3 linked regions of the Homo sapiens genome follow. The protein of the gene in region 1 purifies or fractionates together with the protein of each later gene. This does not show direct contact. Each region holds a gene or a part of one and is shown on either strand. Other genes may lie near its edges.

What was found. The genes of interacting proteins can lie anywhere in the genome.
Region 2: the proteins of CDKN2AIP (region 1) and MAGEB2 purify together in Homo sapiens (co-immunoprecipitation; 2 studies listed by BioGRID and IntAct, with this or other methods). This does not show direct contact.
Region 3: the proteins of CDKN2AIP (region 1) and KPNA1 purify together in Homo sapiens (co-immunoprecipitation; 4 studies listed by BioGRID and IntAct, with this or other methods). This does not show direct contact.

What each region holds. Positions count from the first base shown.
Region 1 is NC_000004.12:183,439,859-183,448,085, reverse strand, and holds the start of CDKN2AIP (CDKN2A-interacting protein), read right to left. Parts: upstream 3,451-8,227; 5' UTR 3,289-3,450; coding exon 3,017-3,288; intron 2,552-3,016; coding exon 2,421-2,551; intron 1,999-2,420; coding exon 659-1,998; 3' UTR 1-658. UniProt on the Homo sapiens protein: Regulates DNA damage response in a dose-dependent manner through a number of signaling pathways involved in cell proliferation, apoptosis and senescence.
Region 2 is NC_000023.11:30,211,359-30,218,577, reverse strand, and holds the start of MAGEB2 (melanoma-associated antigen B2), read right to left. Parts: upstream 3,016-7,219; 5' UTR 2,923-3,015; intron 50-2,922; exon of another isoform or gene 3-49; 5' UTR 1-2. UniProt on the Homo sapiens protein: May enhance ubiquitin ligase activity of RING-type zinc finger-containing E3 ubiquitin-protein ligases. Proposed to act through recruitment and/or stabilization of the Ubl-conjugating enzyme (E2) at the E3:substrate complex.
Region 3 is NC_000003.12:122,421,387-122,428,315, forward strand, and holds the end of KPNA1 (importin subunit alpha-5), read right to left. Parts: intron 6,331-6,929; coding exon 6,152-6,330; intron 5,787-6,151; coding exon 5,599-5,786; 3' UTR 516-5,598; downstream 1-515. UniProt on the Homo sapiens protein: Functions in nuclear protein import as an adapter protein for nuclear receptor KPNB1. Binds specifically and directly to substrates containing either a simple or bipartite NLS motif.

The DNA of each region.
Region 1 (8,227 bases):
AAGTGTAAATTGTATTCCACCTCAAAACATAAATTAACCCGCTTAAAGAATCTTCAGCGGTCAAAGTCATGGTGAATTTTAAACAACTTCAGAGTAAAATAACAAGTACTTTATACTGCTTTATATCTAAAAAATGCTTACAACTTCTCATAAAAATAGTTTGAAGCAACTATTTTTTCTTTTATTTTTTAACAGACACGTTCAACATTACGGGCAACATTTTTAAAACCTTAAGCTTTACAGACTTTCAAACATTCAAATACTGTGGTCCCTTTCCTTTGATGTGGTTTATTCAGCTAGAAAAGAAAACATGGTAGACAACTTAATACATTTTCACCAAATTGAAAGTAGTACAAAAATTTTAGGACTCTACCGAACTACACATCGTACCTAATGTATCATTAAAAATAGAAGACAGTATTTTCTTCAGCAAATAAAACAGCATACTAATATGCTGCTAATGCATACCTTTTAATGTGTACTGTCATTCATAAATTATTTACAACTGCTACTGTGTGAAGAGAACTAGAATGTAAATTTTCTGCAAAACTGGAAAAAAAGCAATACAAAATTTGTGAAAGCCTGTGTTTTATACTATACAAAAGTCAGTTTTTCTCTTCAAATACCAGATATTGTATGCAGTGATATTTTGGACACATTATAGTAATTCTTGAGGATGTTTTAGTGCTGGAGGTAAGTTTACAGGCCTCGATTCTTCATCAAGGAGTACTAGATCTTCTATTTCACTGCCTCTGTATTTCCTTTTACATATTTTTACCACCACCTTTTTCTTGAGAAATAACTTCAATGCTTCTCTTGATGCAACTGCTTTTGCATTTTCTTTGCTTTTTCCACAGCCAGTGCCCAAATACACAGACTTGCACCTCAATTCACAAACAATACTTTCTTGAGAGCTCTTATTTTGAGGCAGATCTGCCAATTCTTTTAGTGGGACAAAAAATACATCCAGTGTTGCTTTCAGAGCCTCAATAGCTGCATTTAGGAGCTCTCCATGATTCACATTGGGACTAAAGCCACCAACAGCTACCAACTTCCATGCCACCGTTTTATATAGTCTATTGAAAAAAGGTTGCTTCTGTTTCACATCTTCATTGGTTAACTTGCAAGAGAATTTGACAGAACTCTCACTTGACTGTGAAGTACTTTTAGAAGGCAACTGTGAGGTGCTAGTCTGAGAACTACTCTTAGAAGCCAACTGGGACACACTTGCTAAGGAAGTGCTTTTGGAAACCAGAGATCCACTGGTCTGGGAGCTGCTCTTGGAAGCTAGTAGTGATGCAGCTACCTGGGAAGTGCTCTTGGAAGTTAGCAGCGATGTATTTGTTGAAGAGCTGCTCTTGGGAGTCAGTAAGGATGTGCCTGATGAGGAACTGTTTTTAGCAACTGATGATGAAACACTTGCCTCTGAACTAGTTTTGGAAGTTAACCCACTTGAAGCTGTCTCTGAACTAGGTTTGGAAGACAATAGTGGCAATTCTACCTCTGAGCTTCCTGAGGAGCCCAACAAGGGCACCTCGATCTCTGAGCTGCTTTGAGAAGCTGAGGCTGAAGAGCCTTCCAAAGCACTCTTTTTAGGTGATCCACTTTGTTGTCTAGAATCAGTGGATTGGGTCATGTGACTATTCACACTGGATTTCAGCAAGGAAACAAATGATGCAGAACCGTGTTTATCTGGAGCTTCTGCTTCAGAAGCTTTCCCAGATCCTGCCGTTGTTACCTGAGAGGAAACGCTGCTGCTGCTTTGGCTGGAAACAGATCGATCTCCATCACTTGTAGAGCTATTCTGACTGGAGATGCCAGAGCTCCGAGCTGAGTTCCCACTCTCTGATTTGATGGCCGACCCTATACACGTTGAACTGTTTTCCTGCTGAGCTGATGCACGTTCTGTCTTGGCAGAGGTTTTTGCGTGATCTTGCTCAACTGCAGAACTGTTTTTTCCTTCTATAACTCGTTTTTTGGATGGCTCTTCTACCCCTTCTAAAAAGAAGAAAAACATAGATATGTGACTAAGAATACCTCGTACAAAACGGGTGATGAGACAAATACACATTAAAATAAAGGCACAAAGTGAAAACATTTCAAGACTAATCGTTTCTTTAAAAAGTGTGGAGTCATTAATTTCTTAAAACAGTGTTGAATAACATCATGAATGTCTAATATTAAAAAAATAACAGCATCAGACAACAGTGGACACTTCAAAATCTAAAGCAGTCAAAGCAAACTATCAAATTCAAAGCCTAAAGACACAGATATATACTTTAGGTTTAACATTCCAACTTTATTACTTATTAATAACATAAAAATTCTGGCTTGTTAAAAAAATTAGTAACAATAATTCCTAATTATATCAAACTTATGCTCTAAACTCCTATGTATGTTCACATCTATGATCTGCTAACCATTGCTACTCGATATCCCTCTTTTCTTCACCTTGGCAACCAGTTCATCTCTTGTTGTATAGGTTGGAGCATCTGTCACTTTGATGCCTTCAGCCATACTAAGTATTTTATCCATAACTTTTTGAGGGTATCTGAAAAAGAAGGAAAAGTCATTTTTAAAAAGTGTTTTTTCTAAGGTCCTACTTGTGCAAAAAACAGGCCACAGGGACTGCATTTCCTGGCTGCAATCAAGAAAGTGAACCAACCGCCAAGAACTGTTTCCTGGAACCCCATAAACAAGTGCCCCAGGGTCTGGGAGGCAGGGCACCTCCTCACTAATCTTAAATCTCGCACCCGTCCCCAAGAGCGTTGTTCCCTAACACAAGCAACCCTACCAGCAGCTGCGCCCACACCACCGGGCACACAGACGTCCGGGAATCATGTCGGCTCCTCGCAGGGACGCCCTTCTCCCCCTTAGAGGGCAGCCGGGCCGGCGGATTCCCGCGCTTCACAACTTCCCCTCCCCGCCGAGGCCGGTCCCGCGGAGGGCGCCGGGCCCCGGTCTGCAGGTGGCACACAAAACGAGGCGTGCTGGTTAGGGACGCTGCCTCACTCACCGGCACCCGAGGAAGACGTGGTTCGCCCAGGCCATGGAAAAGGAGATGAGCTGCTGCAGCTGCCGGTTTCGGGTCCCGCTCTCGGCGTCGGCAGCTTCATCCGTGCTAGCGGAGGCAGCGCCGCCAGCGGGGGCCAGGTCCCCGGCGTTGCGAAGCAAAAAATCCCGGCGGTGGCGCCAGTGTTTGTCAGTCTCGCCGTCGCAGCGCAGCGCCTCCACCCAGGCTGCCACCCGCGGGTTCTGGCTCAGGTACTCCGACACCTCCTGCGCCATGTTGGGCCTGCAGGCCGCGAACACAGCTGCACCGGGAGACAGGCAGGACTAGCGGGGCGAGCGGCCCTGTCACTGCGGCCTGCACCCGCGGCCCTCCAGATAACGCCCCTCCGCAGGCCTAAAGACCAAACAACAGCGCCCAGAGCCGCCGAACCGCCCACTTCCGCCCACCGCCGGCTTCTTCCCTTTTATAACCTCGCCGCCGCCGCGCGCCCTCGCGTTCTTCCGGCGCGAGCCGGCGCTCCCAAGACGCTTTGCGGCGCCGGGGCCGCTGCGACGCTGCGTCCCCGTGAGGCCACGGAGGGCACCCCGGGGGTGAGGTGGGCGGGCGTCGGGCGTCTCCCGCCCCACGAGGGCGGACTGCAAGTCGAGCTGGCCTGGGACGACCGAGTCTCGGCGGAACCCCGGGCGTTCTGTCCTCGCTTTGTGACGCCGCGCGCTCCTGCCGTCCTCCTCCCCCGCCGGGTCAGCTGCGGCGCCGGGAGCAGAGGCGAGAGGGGCAGGGCCCGGGCAAGGGAGGCAGCCGGGCGCGGCGGCCAAAGTCCGCTAGGGGGGCGTCCCGGGGGACCTTGAGCCGCCCGCAGCCGCGGGGCCTGTGGTCTCCGCCCTGAGACGCCTGTGTGTGAGCGGGGCCAAAACAAACAAAAGCCGGCCTCCATGTTAGAGTGTTGGGAGCTGCGTCTCGCGCTGCTTTCAGTGTGCCCGAGCGAAGCGTTCCGAGGCCGTCGGGGTCTCCGCGCCTTCAGGAGGGCGGGAGTGCCAGTCCCCTTACATAGCAGCAGTAGACAGTAAGGTCACACGAGGACCTGGCTCCGTGTTGCCGTGAGGCTTGCAGCCTTCGAAGCTGGCCCTGGCCCCGCAGCGGTAGGGCTTGTTCCCGCAGTTTATTAGGTCTCTAGTTAATCCAGGCATTGCCTTCCTGTTCTGGTCAGTAGGAAAACAACACCCCGACAACGCTCTGTCTCTAGAATTTCCTAAAATCAACAGCTTTACCACCAACCGGCAGATGTCCGGAGGTGGAGTGGAAATGTACCTATTTATCTATAGGGCCCCAAACCTCTCTCCCTGTTAGAGCTGTTTTTTCCTTCTATATATTTTTTTCCACTTTACATTTCCCACAGTTACGTACTCTAACTGCTGGCTGGCTTATTGTTACGTTTCCCATTCCAGGTATACATGCACTGTAAGATAAATACGTTAAATGATATAAATTATGAAATTTTTCTTTCAATAAATGTAGACTTTGATGTAAAAATGCATGAATCAGAATAAGCAAGCAAAAAAAGGTCACTTTAGGTAAGATCAGATAAGGTTAACTGTGTAATTTATGTGCATGCTGGAACAAAATACAGCTATTGTATGAAAACAATATTGCCCATTTTCCTGCCATACCAAAAGAAACTACATAAAAACGGAGGCACAAAGAAATTTTGAAGCTTTGTGATTTTGCTTCTAGTTTGCTGTTCTTTCCTCCTTTTCACAGATAATTGCTGAAAATCTAGAGGGGGTGGACGGATTGCAGAAATCTGGCTATTTAAAAGGTGGAGAAATTACGATTTCTCCTTTCATGAATTCTTTGGCAAGGGGACCATGGCAAGTAAAAGAAGCTATGATCGCATACCTAGATTATATATGTGCATTTTAAATCAAGAATGTTCTCACGGCCAGGTGCAGTGGCTCACGCCTGTAATCCCAGCACCTTGGGAGGCCGAGGCGGACGAATCATGAGGTCAGGAGTTCGAGACCAGCCTGGCCAATGTAGTGAAACCCCATCTCTACTAAAAATACAAAAGTTAGCCAAGTGTGGTGGCACGTGCCTGTAGTCCCAGCTACTCTGTAGGCCGAGGCGGGAGAATCGCTTGAACTCAGGAGGCAGAGGTTGCAGTGAGCCGAGACCAAGCCATTGCACTCCAGCCTGGGTGACAGAGTGAGACTTCATCTCAAAAAATAATAATAATAATGTTCTCACTTTTTTTCTTGTTGCCCTGTAGTCTTCTTCCCACTCATGGGCTTCATTGCCTTGAAAGGAGAACAAGTAGAGCCTGAATTTCAAACAATTTTTTTAATTATAATAAAAGCGATAGAGTCTGAAAGATGGAGTACTTGTGCAAAAACCAGGTGCTTGGAATAAAAGATACATGCATTTTTCTTTTTTGATTCTTAAAAAGTTGACTTTGCATATAAAGATTCAAAGACTATGAACCACAAGTAGCTGGGACTGCAGGCGGGTACCACGACGACAGGCTAATTTTTTATTTTTTTGTAGAAACAAGGTTTCACTGTTGTCCAGGCTGGTTTTGAACTCCTAATATCAAGCAATTCTTCTGCCTCGGCCTCTCAAAGTGCTGGGATTATAGGCATGAGTCGCTGTGCCCGGCCTCATTTTTTTTTAAAGACCCTCCCACCTACAGAGACAAATTCCTCTCTAAGCTGGGGGAGACGTTCTGAGAGAAAAGGTGAGAGGAGAATTTAGGTGATAACTAGGAAAGTCTATGGGAGTAGGGAATAAGATGCAGGGTGGGAAGTGTTGGCTGTTAGAAATTGCTAGGTAGATTTTGGGTCTAAGAGCAGAAGGACTTGGCTCTGCCCGAGTTTCTGAGAGAAGACAGCCCAATCGTGCCCTGAGCCTGTATGCGTTGGCCTTTAGAAATGAACATAGAAAGGGCCTTTTATAGCTTTGATAACCAACTATACAACTCCCTCCTCTGCTCCTAACACACGTGTGTATATATATATACATATGTGTGTGTGTATATATACATAACACACACACACGCATTTACGCACATATATCTCACAGGGCCTAGAGGAGATCCAAAAGGTTCCCAAGAAAGAGTTGAATGGTGAAGTGCCTACCAAGCACCAGGGTCCAAGGTGAATGAGGCTAGGGGTGGTCAGCTTGTCAGCAAAGGGAGATGCAGCTAGTTTTCAGCAAGTCATCAGACCAGTGCCCGTCAGGCCGCATCAATAGGAGAGGACCCTCAACCTCTCCTGAAATGATCAGTGTGCATTGCTTGTGCTGGTAGATCAAGCAGTTATACTCCCAGCAGAGCCCACAGGGAAGAAAGCACAAGACAATGCTAGGATGATAACCAAGCCTCACCCCACCACTGCCCTCACTAGAAATCTACTCAGAGGAGAAAAGGGAGAGAATTCTAATGAATTGAGAAAGATCCACTATCATCCCAAATTGAGTTTCAAACAAGTGACTGAGTTCACAGGATTAAATTTTCTGCTGTAAGTGGAAGCCCATTCACTGAAACTGGTTCTGTAGCATATCTCTCTGAAGACATCCAATAAAAATTCCAGCGGCAAGCTGGCTTTTCTGCAGATGGCTTTCCCATGGAGCAACATGAAGGGATTGCCCCTGTTCCTGGATGTGACTGTGGAAGCAAGAAAGCCTTTGGCAGGAAGGTCTGCATGTGGAGAGGCTTGTGAGGAGCAAATACTCCAGTTATGGCCAAGGTTATGACTTGATGTGAGAAATACTTCATGGTGAGGGGAAATATTTTATGCTAATGATGTGTGAGGACACAAATCTGCCAAATTACAGTGATAAGGTGGGATGTTCTGAAAAAGTAAGAGAATGTTTTAAGAGTGATCCCCTCTGTTAGAAGCTTTGAGAAATCAAGTAGGATGAAGATAGGTAGTAACAGTCTGATTACGGACTGGAGCCACCTGTGAGCTTGGCAAAAGCCGTTTTTACTGCAGTGATGAAGACTCCATATCAGAGTGAGTTCAGGAGTCGGAAATGGAGATATTTGGCTGTAAAGGGGAGAAGATAGAGGAAGCTGGACAGGGTCATGGGGTCAAGGTGGCTTCAATTTCAGATGGGAGTAGCCTGAGCATGTTGCCCACTGCTTGAAGGCAACTCACAGAAAAGGAGAGTTTGAGGATCTGAAGAAAAAGAGGGTAATTAGCAATTTCTGCAGACATAGGTGTGGCTGGGATCCACACACAGGTGGAGAGATTAACCTTAGGTGGGCAGACACTTCCTCTGTTTTAAAAGAAGACGTTTGTAAGTTTGGAGCTGAGACGTTGACATGGAGGCCATCTGATGGTGCAGAGAATGCTCGCAATGGATATTTTAGAGGGCAGAAGAGCAGGCTGCCTAGATGAACATAGTCTTTTTGGCCAATTTAAAATTACAGGCTGGGCGTGGTGGCTCACACCTGTAATCCTAACACTTTGGGAGGCCAAGGTGGGCAGATTACTTGAGCCCAGGGGTTCAAGGCCAGCCTAGTCTACATGGCAAGACCCTGTCTCTACAAAAAATACAAAACATAGTTGGGTGTGTTGGTACATACCTCTAGTTCCAGCTACTCAAGAGGCTAAGGTGGGAGGATCACTTGAGCCCACGAGGTCGAGGTTGCAGTGAGTTGTGATCGCACCGCTGCACTCCAGCCTGGGCGATAAAGGGAGACTGTCTCAAAAATTAAAATAAAATAAAAATATAATGTGTGCACACAAAAATGAAACATCTAAGTAGAAAAAAAGAGGCATAAATGAAAGCAAACAATCTCCCTCACTCAACCTGGTCCCACTCTGTGGACATCAGCATTCATGTCATTTCTATCTTGATTTCTTTGGGTGATTATTTTCATAACTCCAAATTAAATGCTTATACTTCCATTTCTTATTTTTTCAACTTTAAGCAGTACTTATTTCACTCCTGAATGTTGAAGCTGAGAAATCCATATCATTTACACTACCCCTTTTTTCTCCTAATTTTTGTTATCTTTTATTGTTTTCCCGTTGGCTACCTGTCATAAATTCAAATATTATACTTAATCATCATTTTTAAATCTATCAACTTCAGGCAGGTAGCTCTTGATTTCCACATCATGTAAGAAAATTCTGGAGAGACCATATTACAGATATTTAGATATTCCCAAAATATGCGTTCAGGATAAAATCTAATCTCTAGTGATAAATCGAC
Region 2 (7,219 bases), on another chromosome or scaffold:
GGCTGGGTAAACCAAGAAATGTGGGCAGAAGAATAGATGGTTAGTATACCTGGAGATGGGAGAATGAGATCTGTGAGCACCTTCAGCTGGAAGACCCCATCTTAGCTTTACTGAAGGAAGCCTGCCTTTGCAAGTTTCCCTGAAGGCACTGTTCTAGAAAGCCACAAGGCTCCTGTCGTCCTGGTTATCCTTTCCCCTGAGACACCAGAGAAGAACCACAGAACCCCTACAGTGAGTTTCAGACTGCATTCTGTCAGCCCTTCCTTGGGCTTACTATGGTGACAGGAGGTACTGGCAGTGCGGCCTCCTGTCTTCTGGTGTTTGGGGTTTTATCAGTTAACTTTTAGGATTATCATATGAAGTCTTGGCAGGGCCTGAGCCACTCCCTTCCGCTACTGTGAATTTGACACCTCAAAGCACCCTGGGACTCATGAGAAGAAATTGAAGGGGTGCCTCAACCACCACCCTGAGAAGTGACACCCAGTGCTGAGAGTTCAGTGGGGTCTTTGATGTCTTGGAATCATTAGAGTCTTCAGCTCTCATTCAAGGTCCCCACCTTGGCTTCATGTAGGGCTTGGCACCAGCCCCCTTCTGCTGAGTGGTGGCTACACCGTCAGACTAAGAATCTCACCTCTCTTAGATCTTATATAAAAAAGAGAGGGGGACACTAAACCTGATAACCCTTTCCTGAGCTTTCTAGGGCTGAAAATAAAGGGTTGGACTGGATTCTTTGATGTCTCCACTGTTAAGGGTTCAGTGGTTCCTTGAATTCTCAGATTCCTCAATTTGACTCCTGGTAGAGGAGCTCTCCTTTTTATTGAACTGAGGCCTATGTCGTCATGGTAAGAGTGAACATCCCTGAGAACCCATAGGAGGAAGTGAGGGTGGCCTTATCTGACCAAATGTGGTCTTCCCAAAAGTAAAAGCTGTGGCAGGCAGATAACTGCCCTGTGATAGATGGTCCCACATACAGTCCCAACTCAGCCTCTAAATTTGACTCATGAGAGGGTCTAAGATTCTTCCCTGATATGGTTTGGATCTGTATCCTCACCAAATCTCATGTCTAACTGTAATCCTCAATGTTGGAGGTGGAGCCTGGTGGGAGATGACTGGATCATGAGGGCAGGTTTTTCATGAATGGTTTAGCACCATTCCCCTTAACGATGACTTCTCATGAGATCTGGTCATTTAAAAGTGTGTAGCGCCTCCCCTGGCCTCTTGATCCTGCTCTGGCCATGTAACATGTCTGCTTCCCCTTCCCCTTCTGCCATGATTGTAAATTTCCTGAGCCCTGCTCCCAGAAGCTGAGCAAATGCCAGCATCATGCTTCCTGTACAGCCTGCAGAACTGTGAGCCAATTAAACCTCTTTTCTTTGTAAATTACCCAGTCTTGGGTATTTATAGTAATGCCAGAATGGACCAATTAGTACATTACTTCTGTTGACAAGTGATCACCACCCTCAGATTAAAACTCTCATTTCCCTGTTACCCTTGAGTGGGAACTGATGGGCACCTCTGTTTCACATTTCTGCCTGGGGTCTCTCAGAGCTGACAGTACTGAGGATTGTGTGGCTCCCACTAATATGGGGTGGGAGCCCCCTGCAGTCGTCAGAGTTCTTATCATAACATCTGGCACAACCTGGAAACCCTCCCTCTGCTGACCTCAAGCTGCCTTTTTTTTTTTTTTTTTTAAGAGACGGAGTCTCGCCCTTTCGCCTAGGCCGGACTGCAGTGGCTCTATCTCGGCTCACTGCAAACTCCGCCTCCCAGGTTCACACCATTCTCCTGCCTCAGCCTCCCGAGTAGCTGGGATTACAGGCGCCCGCCACCGCTCCCCGCTAATTTTTTTTTTGGTATTTTTAGTAGAGACAGGGTTTCACCGTGTTAGCCAGGATGGTCTCGATCTCCTGACCTCGTGATCCGCCTGTCTCGGCCTCCCAAAGTGCTGGGATTACAGGCGTGAGCCACCGCGCCCGGCCAGGCTGCCCTCTTTAATGGGGTCGTTCACTTCTCTGAGATGTCTTGGGGAGAGTGAGTACAACTCAACATGCCATGCTCAGGTCTCCCTGGTCTGACAACAAGAGTGGGCTCTATATGGCACTTCTTTCTGGTTGGAGTCCCCTCCTCATCACTCAGTGTCACATCCTTGCTTCCTGTTAGAGACTGGGCCTCTCTGTCGCATTAGACCTACCCCATTACACCAAGACCCTCACCTCCCTGAGACCACCTCCAGAGGAAACTAGAGAGCATCTCAGCTTGCTAGCTTTGCCCTGACCTTCCTATTGCTGGCAGCAGATGTGGGTCTTGGATGTAGCCCTCAACTTCTTTAGTCCCGGGAGAGGAAGTCAGGTTGCTCTGCATTTGTCATGTCAGCCTGGGACCATCTAAAACCCAGTGTCACCTCGGCCTGGGAACTGCCCAGCATGACTCCTCTTTTGGGTAGAGGTCCGCTCATTAATACTCAGAGTCCTCACCTTAACCCCAGTTAGGTTTTAGGTTGATGCCATATGAGCAGAAGCAGGGCTGCTTCCTAGGTTCAAGGCCCTCCCCTCCCTGAGACTTTCCAGGCACAGCTTTGCTGGGGCCTCCCAGAGCCGTCTTCAGGGACGAGACTTAGTGAGGCCACCTTTGTTAAGGGTAGGAGATGTTCTCTTCAGTCCACATTTAGGGCCCTCAAATTGATTTCAGTTAGGGCCTACACCCACCCTACGTGCAGAATGAGGCCTATTCCCTGCGTCCAAACCTCCTTCCCCCGCGACTGCCCCTCCCCCCACCCTTCCCCTGCCCTGGAACTTTCCAGGTGGAACATTGCCGGACGGCTTTACCGGAGCCTCTCAGGACCAAATGCAGAAGCGGGACTTAGTGGGGCCCTCTTTGTTACAGGTGGGGGTGGTCTCTTCAGTTTACACTCAGGGTCCTCACCTTGACTGCCGACCAGTCCTGAGAATTCACCCCTGGCTGACCAGACGCCGCACCCCCTACACTCGCTCGGGTCCTCGCCTCCAAAGCGGAAGTCAGGATGAGCCACATCCGCTCGGGTCTTTTTTTTCAAAGCGGAAGTCAGGATGACTCACATCCGGCAGCCCGTGGCGTCTGAGGGCTGACGGCTGGACGCTACCGGACGTCACTGTTCTAGCGTTGCTGGTCCCTTCGTCTCCACTAGGGGTCCTCACCTCAGTATCTAGCAGCCTGGGACGAATATGCGTGCTGACCCAAATCCGCCAGCCTCCAAACAATACCCCCACCTCCCTCAGCCCCCACTGTGGAAATCTAAGCGTGCCAAACAGGCCACCCCTGCCTGGGCCTCACAGGCCTGACAGCAGCGGCAGGGCTCTGTGAATGTGCCTTTTTTGGGGAGAGGTCTTCTCATCCGCCCTCAGAGTCCTCACCTTGATTCCCGTGAAAGCCAAGACTCTCTCTCTGCACAACTGGGGTCACCCTCTTCAGACAAAGGCCCTTCCTTCCCCGAGACTATACAGGTGGAATGAAGGGGATTCAGAGATACTTATTTTGGGGCCTCTCGGTGCTAACAATGGCGAGGGGCTCTGTTTGGCCCCCTCTGCTGGTGTTGCAAGGGGGAGAGCCCCCTCGTAACACTTAGGATCCTCACCTTGATTCCTGTTAGGGCGTGGGTTTTGTCTCTTTGACCTAGGGCCATTTCCACTAGTCCAAGGTCTTCACCTCTGTGAAACACACGAGGCATATTGATGGGATTTCTCCACCTCATAATTCTCTTCTGGGCTCCCCAAGGGTGACAGCATTGGTGGAATTTGTGGGCTCCTCTGTTCTGGGGTGGGTGGTTTTGAAACTGCCCCTATGAACTGTATAAAATTAATCAGGGAAGAGGGAAGGGAGATAAATGAAGATACGCCAAGCTTGCAGAACATTCAGCATTAATCATGAAGTCAGCTGCTCTCTGACCTGCTTCCTCATAGTAGTTTGGTGCCTATTATCCCAGAATCATGTAGATCCTGTTACTAGATTATAGTTGCCCTTAATTGCTCTATAGATAACAATTTTAACATAATGAAACTTTTTTTCTTTGAGATATTCCTTAAGGTCCTGCATACTGATGATTCTAATGACTCAGCTGGTCTGAAGGACCCCACTGATGCCAGCTGCTCTAAAGGACCCTACTGACATCAGCTGGTCCAAAAGACCCCACAGGAGCTGACTAAAAAAAAAAAAACGCAGTTTCCACATTCTGATGATTTCATCCCCTTTACCCCAACGAATCAACAACCTCAGTTCTCCAGCCCCTCGCCCTCCATGATCTCCTTGCAAATCCCAGCCCAGAACTCCTTGGGGAGATGAATTTGAGAGTCTCTTCTCATCTCCTCACTTGGCACCCTGCAATCATTAAACTCTTTGCTGCAAACTTTGCTGTTTTATTATAGTGGGTCTGTTACTTTGCAGCTGACACAGAAACTCGTTGGTCCTATAACAGTTCTCTTATTTCTCTTCAGGGTCCTCACCATGACACCTGGCCAGTCTTGGGGCACTCCATCCTCCACTGACCTGAGGCTGTTCCCATCAGATCAAGGTACTCACCCTCTGCCGACCTCTGAACTGGAAGTTGTGGTGAGCTACATTTAGCCAGGGCTGTTCTGGACTTTGAAGGGCTGACAGCCTGAGCTGGACTTTTTGGGACCCCACAGTTCTGGCTGGGTCCTTCCATCATCTTCATTCAGGGTCCTCACGTTCATATCTATCAGAGGCTGAACTGCATCTACTGACATGAAGTTGACCTTCTTAGGCCATGTCCATGAGAGGTCTGAAGATTAAATGAGTGGATGCTCAGCCTGACAGTTCTGTCTCGAGCTCTCTAGGTCTGAGAGCAGATGAGAGTCAGTCTATGCATAACCTCATATATTCTGAGATATTGGTTTCCCATGTCCTCTGAACTGGGGATCATCTTTCATTAAAGGCTTTCTGGGAAATGTCACATCCCTGCAAACATGACCAGTTTTTCTACTGCAAACCTTGCAGAGAAGGAGCCGTGTTCCGGGAGTGATGTGAGATAGGGAAGCTGAAGCACAAGGCAGAAGCTCCAGGACAGGTAGTGGGCTGTCAGAGAAAAAAACATGCTGATTTTTTCCATCTTGCTAGACTTAGATTCTCACGAAAATTCTGTTCTGACACATTTATTTTCTACAGGGAAGAGACTGTCCAGGATGATTTTGGGAGCTTCTGATCTTTTGAGATTACCTGATATTGCTTGTGTAGATGAACGTATTGACACCAGGTACTATTTTTCTTTTTTTTATTTATGCCTCTCATTTATTTTGGCATTCATATTGGTCTGGGAATATATTTGACCCAGTAGTATGGGCACAGAGTCCTTCTTTTTATTGCCTGAGATACATTTTTCAAAAATAGAGAGAAAAAATGAATGAAGCAACATGAGGTTAGCCTCAGAATGGGAAGACTGGAACAGTGTGGGATGTAGATTAATCCAGACTGGGGGTCTGGTTTCAGCCCTGCCACTTACCAGCTATGTGAACTCAGGCACATTACTAAACTCTGTGAGCCTCAGGCTCTGCATCTGTGAAATAGGTTTGATAAGCCCCTTCCTTGTGGAATTGGTGAAATGTGGTTAATGTATGTAAAGCACCTGGCACAATACTTGGCCCATATTGAGGTTTCAACATGGCAGCTATTACCTATGATTAACTTGATGATACCACCCATCCCACTGTGATTGCTTTTTCTTAATCCAACAGATGTCAGAGAATATGCAGCATTCTAGAAGAAAGAAAACCCAATAAGCCAAAATGCAGATTAGCACGAAAAATCAAGTAATATTTCCCCATTAAATGATAAATTATTCAATGTGAGGTAGACTTCTCCAGTTAGGTGCAACACAACGCATTTGCGTCAAGGACTAACAACTTCCTTCCCTCCCAGTGTCACTTCCATCTAAATCACCTTTATTTTCATTAATTTAACAAGCACCAAACACCTAGAACTTGCCTAGAGCTTGCCAAATTATGTACATGATAGCCTAATTTGAATGCTCCTTTTAATGAAATTGACTCTTAACTCTTCCAGCCCAGTGCAGAGTACCCAGCGGCTTCTTATCATTTCTTCTTAAGGGAGTATCATCCTTATTTCTCCGAAGCTCACTGGATACAATGTATATAAAGCAGCTAGTTTCTGCACTGTGTTCATCTGCACTGGGACAAGAGCATAGTCACTTTCCAGTGCTGCCCCTGGTGGAGCTTCTTTCCAGTTTTCTCCAAAGTTAAGAGCACTTTTCCATTATAGGCTTAGTCTCTCAACTCTGAAGCTTACCATCTGAGGGTCTTGCCCTGCTCACCACTCCCACAGCCTCCTCCAGTCCAGCATGCAGCCTCACTTAAAATTACCTCCCAGTGAGGGACCTGCAGTTTCCCAAGGCCCTAGCTTTCTTTTTCTCAGAGCATTTACACTACACACTCTCATCTGGAACCCTTCCCACTTTCTTACCTGCCTCCATCTTTTTTAACCTTGTCCTTTGGATCTGAGAGATACTTTCACCATGTATTTGTATGATAGCTGCTCCTAACGACTAAAATTCTTTGGACAATGGGTAAAACTTTCTTTTTTTATTTCTTCTCATCTCCTTCATCTCCAGTACTAACATTGAGCCTTCCAAAGAGCAGAGAATTGATTAATATTTAGGGAATAAAAGAGCCAATGAACAAGAGTACTAAATGAGTACAATTTAATTTATCTTACATTTTTGAAAAAGCCAAACAAATCCAGCTATATATCTTTTAATTTTTTAAAAAGAAAGGCTAAAAGGAATAAGGCAAATCAAGAATTGAACACATCTCACCTTTTTTTTTTTATTTCATGATTTTAACTATTTGAGTGTGGAGTTATTTCACATTTCCAAGAAAATACCTATTCTGATGCTATGTTATTTTGTGTGGATCACAGGGGGAAAAATCAAGGATTTTAACTTTTTTTTTTTTAACTAAAAACTCTCATTTTTTAAATTATTTATTTTTCTTTTACTTTAAGTTTTGCTATACTTGTGCAGATACATGTACAGGTTTGTTATATAGGTATACATGTGCCATGGTGGTTTGCTGCACCTATTAACCCGTCATCTAGGTTTTAAGCCCCACATGCATTAGGTATTTGTCCTAATGCTCTACCTCCCCTTCCCCCCTCCCCCGACAGTCCCTGGTGTGTGATATTCCCCTCCCTGTGTCCATGTGTTCTTATTGTT
Region 3 (6,929 bases), on another chromosome or scaffold:
TCTTTACTGTAAAATATACCCATCAGCTTTTTTTTTTTTTTTTTTTTTTGAGATGGAGTCTTGCACTGTCACCCAGGCTGGAGTGCAGTGGCGCAATCTCCACCCACTGCAAGCTCTGCCTCCTGGGTTCACACCATTCTCCTGCCTCAGCCTCCCAAGTAGCTGGGACTACAGGCGCCCGCCACCACACCCGGCTAGTTTTTTGTACTTTTAGTAGAGACGAGGTTTCACCATATTAGCCAGGATGGTCTCGATCTCCTGACCTCGTGATCCACCTGCCTCGGCCTCCCAAAGTGCTGGGATTACAGGCATGAGCCACCGCACCCGGCCACTAGCTTTTCTAAGACACTTTGTTTGTTTTTAAATACCAGACCTCTGCTATGACAATGTTTGATTTTGTAAACTTCAGGTCAAATCATGTCTTCTGAAAAGTAACTGCATATAAAACACGTTGAGACATTTGCTTAAGATGTTGATCCTGGTTTCAAGTAACAGCATAAGGGAATTCCTTTGAATTTTCTTTTATCAAGCACCCTTTACTAACATCACAAAGATGCATGCATATTCCTTCATTTAGTATTTATTGAATGTCTACTATGTGCAAGGCACTCACCCATGGCCTGACAGACCACATTCAAGTACAAAGAATCATTAGAGCCATTCCAAATCTAAGTGTCAGAACACTTTGAAGCAGGATGTAGAGTGGTCAGAATGACTTGAGGTAAAGCAGAAACACTCAACAACCAGTACATTAAAAGGTGATTTTAATTTTTGACATTCCTTGGGATGATATTCCTTTAGGAAGAAGTAGACTGTGTTAAATTCGCATCCATGGCACTGCTTCCTGAGGCAGTAATTCTTCAAAGCCTTTCCTTCCGTGTCAATACTTTCCACATTTGTGCGTTTGAATGGATCCATGTGTTTAGCCATTATTTTACTAAACACAAAATCATTTGCACAAAAAAAAAAAAAAAAAAAACCTATTACCATACTTGTCTGGTCATACAGAATTTTAGCACCACAGAAGAGGAAAGATGTTTGGCCTGAGAGGGCCTACACTCCAGTCTGTGTAACCTAAAAGCAACTTAAGCCTGATTTCGTCATTTTAAGGGTGCTGATGGTAAGCAGGAGTCAGGAAGAATGGTCTAACAAAAAAGGCTGGCCCAGCTGTGGTTGCCAAGTCTAGTTCTGGGAGATCCTGGGCACGGAACTACTGCGTGGCCACTGCTTTCTTCAAGACACAGAATTTGCAGGGCTCTTCCCCGCCCTTGGACAGCCATCTAAGTGTTGTAACCTTGGGGCAAAGTAATTTCTCGTAAGTCTTCACTTTGTCATCTATAATATAGTGACAATTATCAAAGAACATTTGGAAGACTACATGAGAAAAAAGGAAAGCCCTTAGCCAGGTATCTGGTGTACAATAGATGATCAAATAAAGACATGTTACCTTAATTTGACCTACAGGGAAAACACTCTGGGACTTCGTTTACCCTTAGTTGAAAACAGAACGGAACACTTCTTTTCTTTCTTCTTACCCCAAGCTTCCAGATGTATTTTATGTCCAGTAGCAATTTGATATTTTAAATTAGCATATAAATATTTGCTTTATCAGATATTCTGATGTCCTGGTATCCATTGTTATAACCTGTATATAACCTGTAATCCTGAACTGCTGGGATTACAGGCATGAGCCACCACATCCGGCCATAAACCCAGTAATTTTGTATGGCAGATAAAACATTTTATGGAATATTCTTTATGATAGCCAACTTACTGTAGTAGTCACATCTGACCTTTGATAATTTTTTTAAATTAAGTTCTGATGACAGGAAAAGATAGACCAAAATATTTCCCAACCTGGCAGATATATACTTAATCTGTTCAGCTCACAACAGAGAGAAATGGTCATATTGAGATGGATAAAAATTCAGATTTGAGACTTCCATGTATATAGGCATACCTGTGTCTGCAAATGAGCACATTTTGGAACGTAGGAGTTAGCATACAGTATGAAAGTTGAAAGCAAACAATGCTGGTTTCTAAAAGTGGATCCCTTTTCTTCACTGAACATCATCCTTAGACACCACAATTTCCAATATACTTAAAAACCATCAACCCCTAAAAAGTTATAATGATTTGCCTATTGATATAAAAATTTTCACAAAACTAGCGAGAAAGAAAAACCCCTTGACTCCAGGAAAACCTTTTCATAATGCATCCCCCAAGTTGGGGGATTAAATCGCTGAAATGTTTATTTAGCACTAGAGAAGTAAATTCAAAGTTGCCTGTGGGTAGACGTACAATAGAATTGGTTGACAAAGTTTGGTTTATAAAATATACTTACATATTGTTTCTTAGGCAAAAATCGGCAGCAATCTGGAATAATTCAGATTTTTTATGAGATTAATTGCCAATCTTTTTATCTGTGACGATAATGCCAAAAATGACTCAGAGCCAATAACCTTCATCTGTCATATGGAAGAAACAATCCTAGGGCAATAGTTTTTTCAAAAGCGGAACTGACAAAGATAAGCGTTTAAAAGGGTCTTGATCAATTAGTTACAGGAACATGAAAGAAAGTGTTCCACAGAGAACTGTGTCTCCTAAAATCTCTTTCTTCTATCATCTACCTTACCCAAAATTTCTCAATCCAACCACATCTACCTGCTGGTCCATCAGATACCAGATGCCTTTACATCCAAAATTCTCTTAATGCTTTTTTTCCCCCACCAAAGTTCTCATTACAAATAATATAGATTGGAAGTTTGGAGGATGGAGGGGAATAAAAAGGAAAAGTAAAACAAAGTCACTTTCCCCAATCCATATATAAAACTACAAAAGAGTTTTCCTGTATTGAAATTAACATGCTTTTGTAATGAGCAACGCCTTAGTGGTAGGGTATTCAGTGAATTTAAACTAAGTTAACAGAATCTGAGAGGCAAAGAACTAAAAACAGGATATACAGTTACCCCTTAAAATGTCATTTCTGTTACCAAAAAGCCTGCTTCAGTACCAAGTTCCAACATATCTGAGTTATGCTACTTCACTTTTAGCCAATTCCAACTTTGATACTTTAAGAAAAAATCATTTTATTGTTAAAAAAGAAAAAAAAACTTAGATCTTATAGTTCATGAACTTCTAGGACAAGATAAATTCCTCTGTTTTAGACACAAAATAGATCACGTCAGTTAAATAGACTTTGTTTTAATTCACTCACTGAAACATCTCCAACTACTAGCAAAAATTCCGAATGTCTGAATGCACACTACTCTTCCTAATGTGGGGAGACAACTGTGTGCTTTGTATCTTTCCCACTCAAATTGGCTTATAAAATGAAATTATTTTAACTATCCAATGGAAGGTACATAATTTAAAACATCCTATAGAAATGACATGTTACTAGTAATTTACAATTTTAAAAAACAGCCACAAAAAAGTCAAAGCTAAAAACAAGATTTTTACTATGAATCAGTGCTTCTATTATCCTTCTGAAAGAAGTTATATTTTAATGTGATGTAAAGGCAACATTGAAATTTCTTCTTTAAATTAACCACCTAATTTATCCCTAAAATTACAAAGAATCAGTCTTTTACAGGTCAAGTGCAGTAAACTAAAATGTTCTCTCAGCACAAAGCAGCACTAGAAAAAGTAACAGTTATAGATGGGAGTTGACTAGTTTTGCAGTGGCTGCGCCATCAATAACAAACAGACATCAGACGGTATCCATCCCAGAGCACAGACACTACTACAGACTAGATGCGAAGAATGCGTCACACTCTTGGCTGATAAATGTCCTTTGTCTTTGACTCTTTCTAGTTTGAATGAAGTGGATTTTTTAAAAGTTTAAATCAGGTCACATAAGTTGGCTGCTTAAATAACATCATGATGAGGTATGAAAAGCTCTGAATATCCCTTACATTCAGCAGGATTTACCAGAGATGTATAATAGCTTGTCAGGGGCAACTTCCAAATAGTTTTTACACTTTGGGGTTATAATGAATTCTAGAAGAGGACAAGTCTAAAAAGGTTTAAAAGGGTATGCTCTGAAACAGAGGTGAGCAACCTTTTCCTTCAGAATTCACTTTGAACAGCACATCAACAAAAAAATCTTCTCTGGTAGTGTATCCCAACATTGAGTCAAGATGGCCAACTAGCACCGAGAAGTCGTATTGAACTCATTTGCAGTTGTCTTGGCAATTAAGCGTATTTTTTCATTCCAGTCCAAGCACAAATGTGGATCACTGAACACAGTACTGGAAGCGCCATTTGCAGGTACAGATTGCAGTCATCATTAAATGAGCCAGAAGGCAGATACTGTTTTTATTTTGTGTGGGGGGAGGGGGAAGCGGCACAGTACTAGCAGGAGATGAAATAAAATGATTAGGAAACAATGAGGTTATAAGATCACTGTTCTTATTTGGGTTAAGCAGGTCATGTTGAGAAGATGGTTATTTCTTTCAGATAAGGATGCTACATTAAAGGAATCGTGTGCAGCATGAAAAGATTAGAATCGAGCTGCACCTAAGAAAAAAATCCCAAAGTTACTTTCAAAAGTATGTGTTATCTGCCAGTCACAGAGGGGAAAAGCACCTAGGGTGAACTCCAATTTTTTAATGAGGACCTTGATCAGGACCACAAAGCCTGAAACATTTATTTTAATGCAGAAACACAGCCCCTAGTTACACTGATTGCATTTGGGAAAATTGGAGGGTTTTTTCGTCCTTAGTTTTTTTTATTAAATTACAGGATATGGTTTTCGATTACTAAGTATTCGAAATCCTCATACCAGCAACAGAAATGAACCACTTCCAAATTCTAAGACACAAAAGACCAAAGAGAAGCAAAAGCGATACAAATTAATATGTGCCCCTCTCCTTTCTGCTCTAAGGGAATCTACAAACCAGTATCACATTTAGGAGTCAAAGTGTTAATTCTTCAGCATTCCTGACAACTAGAAAGCACATTCACTGAAGGCTGAAGGTGAGGGAGTGGATGGTTTAACTTTAATATCTGAAGAATGGCGCCAATAGAGGAAAGAAAACCATCCAATCTCAGTAAGGATTAATGCAAATCTGGCTAGAAAAAGCCACCAGGTAATCCAAGGGTTCACTGTGGAAGAACTCATGAAAAGTACTCTGAAGTATACACAACAGGTCTAAACATCTCCCTTGTCGTAAGTAGTTGTGTAAAATTCAAGATAAAGATTTAGTCTCATCTTTTAATGTCAGTTTTTTCCCCCATGTTAAAGGGAATGAGGAGGAGTCCTCTTTTATTCCCCCACAAGAAAAAGGGAGCCACATTAATATGTGTATATTCCCATAACTCTAATGTAAGTGCGGATCTCCAAAGCCTAGGGATTTTTCCGTAAAAGAGAGTGGGCCGTTCTGGTTACCCTTTTATTAGAAGGGTATTCCACCACAGAGAGCCGGAGGTTTTCCAGATGTGTGTAAGAGAGCAGGTGCGCAAGGCAAGCAAATGAGCGCAAACAGTATTATGGAAAACATTTGAGAAGTTAGCTCCATGAGGACTGTGGGCTCCACAAGAGGACTCGACTGGGTAGCCTGGTCTGACACAGGTACGTGAAAGCAGAGTATTGCTTCAAAGCTGGAAACCTTCCATAGGAGCCTCACACTGTTGGAAGATGTACTGCTGCTGGTTAAGGTCAACCTGGGGTGCAATGCTGCTGTCTTCATCTTCGGTCCCGAAGTAATGCTCAATAAGATCAAAGGCCTTTTGGTAGATCTCCTGGTTTTCATGACTCTGTAAGAACTCAATTTTATCCAGACCTAAAATGAAGAATAAAGGAAAATCTTTATTGAAAACTTCAATAAATATTGGAAATTCCATAACTATATATTCCTAAACTATATTTTGTCATATATCTCTGTTCTTGATGTAAAGAAAGATTATTTGTATCTCATAAGTATTTTATAATAGCACAGAAATGACTGCTGGGATTACATCTGAAAGCTAGTATTATAAACTGACATCTTAAATACATATGCAAGTAATATCCAGTCTGCAGAAGCAGCAATTTCCTAACAGTCCTCTTTTCATCCAGTGCCTAGCAGTAGTAGTATTGTTTTTACTGAACTCTATCTATGACCCAATTCATTCTTGGCCATAAACTTCTTCAACCAAAGCATCTTACCATAAGCTTCTTCAATCAAAGCACAGTAAGGGTTAATGCCAGTGCCATTCCTTTTGGCTTCCTGTTCTCCAAGCCTCAGGATATTTTCCAAGCCATTTAGGGCAACCTGTACAATCTTAGAGTCCATGACCGTGAGGAGATCACAGAGCGGCTTGATACAACCCAGTTCTACTAGGTACCTAAATACAAAGAATAATGTAGTCAAACAAAACTTTTAATTTTGTTAAACTTATGAAATTAGTGAGCAAGTCATCCTCAACTTCACTGCAGAGACTTAAAAAAAAAAACAAAAAACAAGCACTCTTTCAACCATACAAGCTATACCTTTTCACAAAACAAAAACAAAAAACCCTCTAAATAAATTATCCCAAACCAGTTCTCTGGCACCTTTCTCCATTCTTTTCTCTTCACAATTTATGCATTCCAAAAACAGGAATACTTACTTATTAATACCTTGAAATGAGCGACTCATCAAAATAGTATAGGTTTGAGTAATTTCATCTTTGTTTCCATAGATAGCCACACCTCTCAAACATGACACTCTTGGTGCTAAAAGCCAGCACAAGCCTGATAAGCCAAATCTTTCAAAGATGATTAGAATTTTAGTAAAGTAAGTTGTGGGAAGAATAAACAAATGTCAGAGGATTCTAGAACTGGTATTTTTCCTTTAATTCAAGCAGAATGTATAACCGTATGTAATCAAGATTAATCATACTTGAACTTCAGAGACATGATTACTGTATCACATTCACAGTAAATAGTCATGTCATTTTTTATC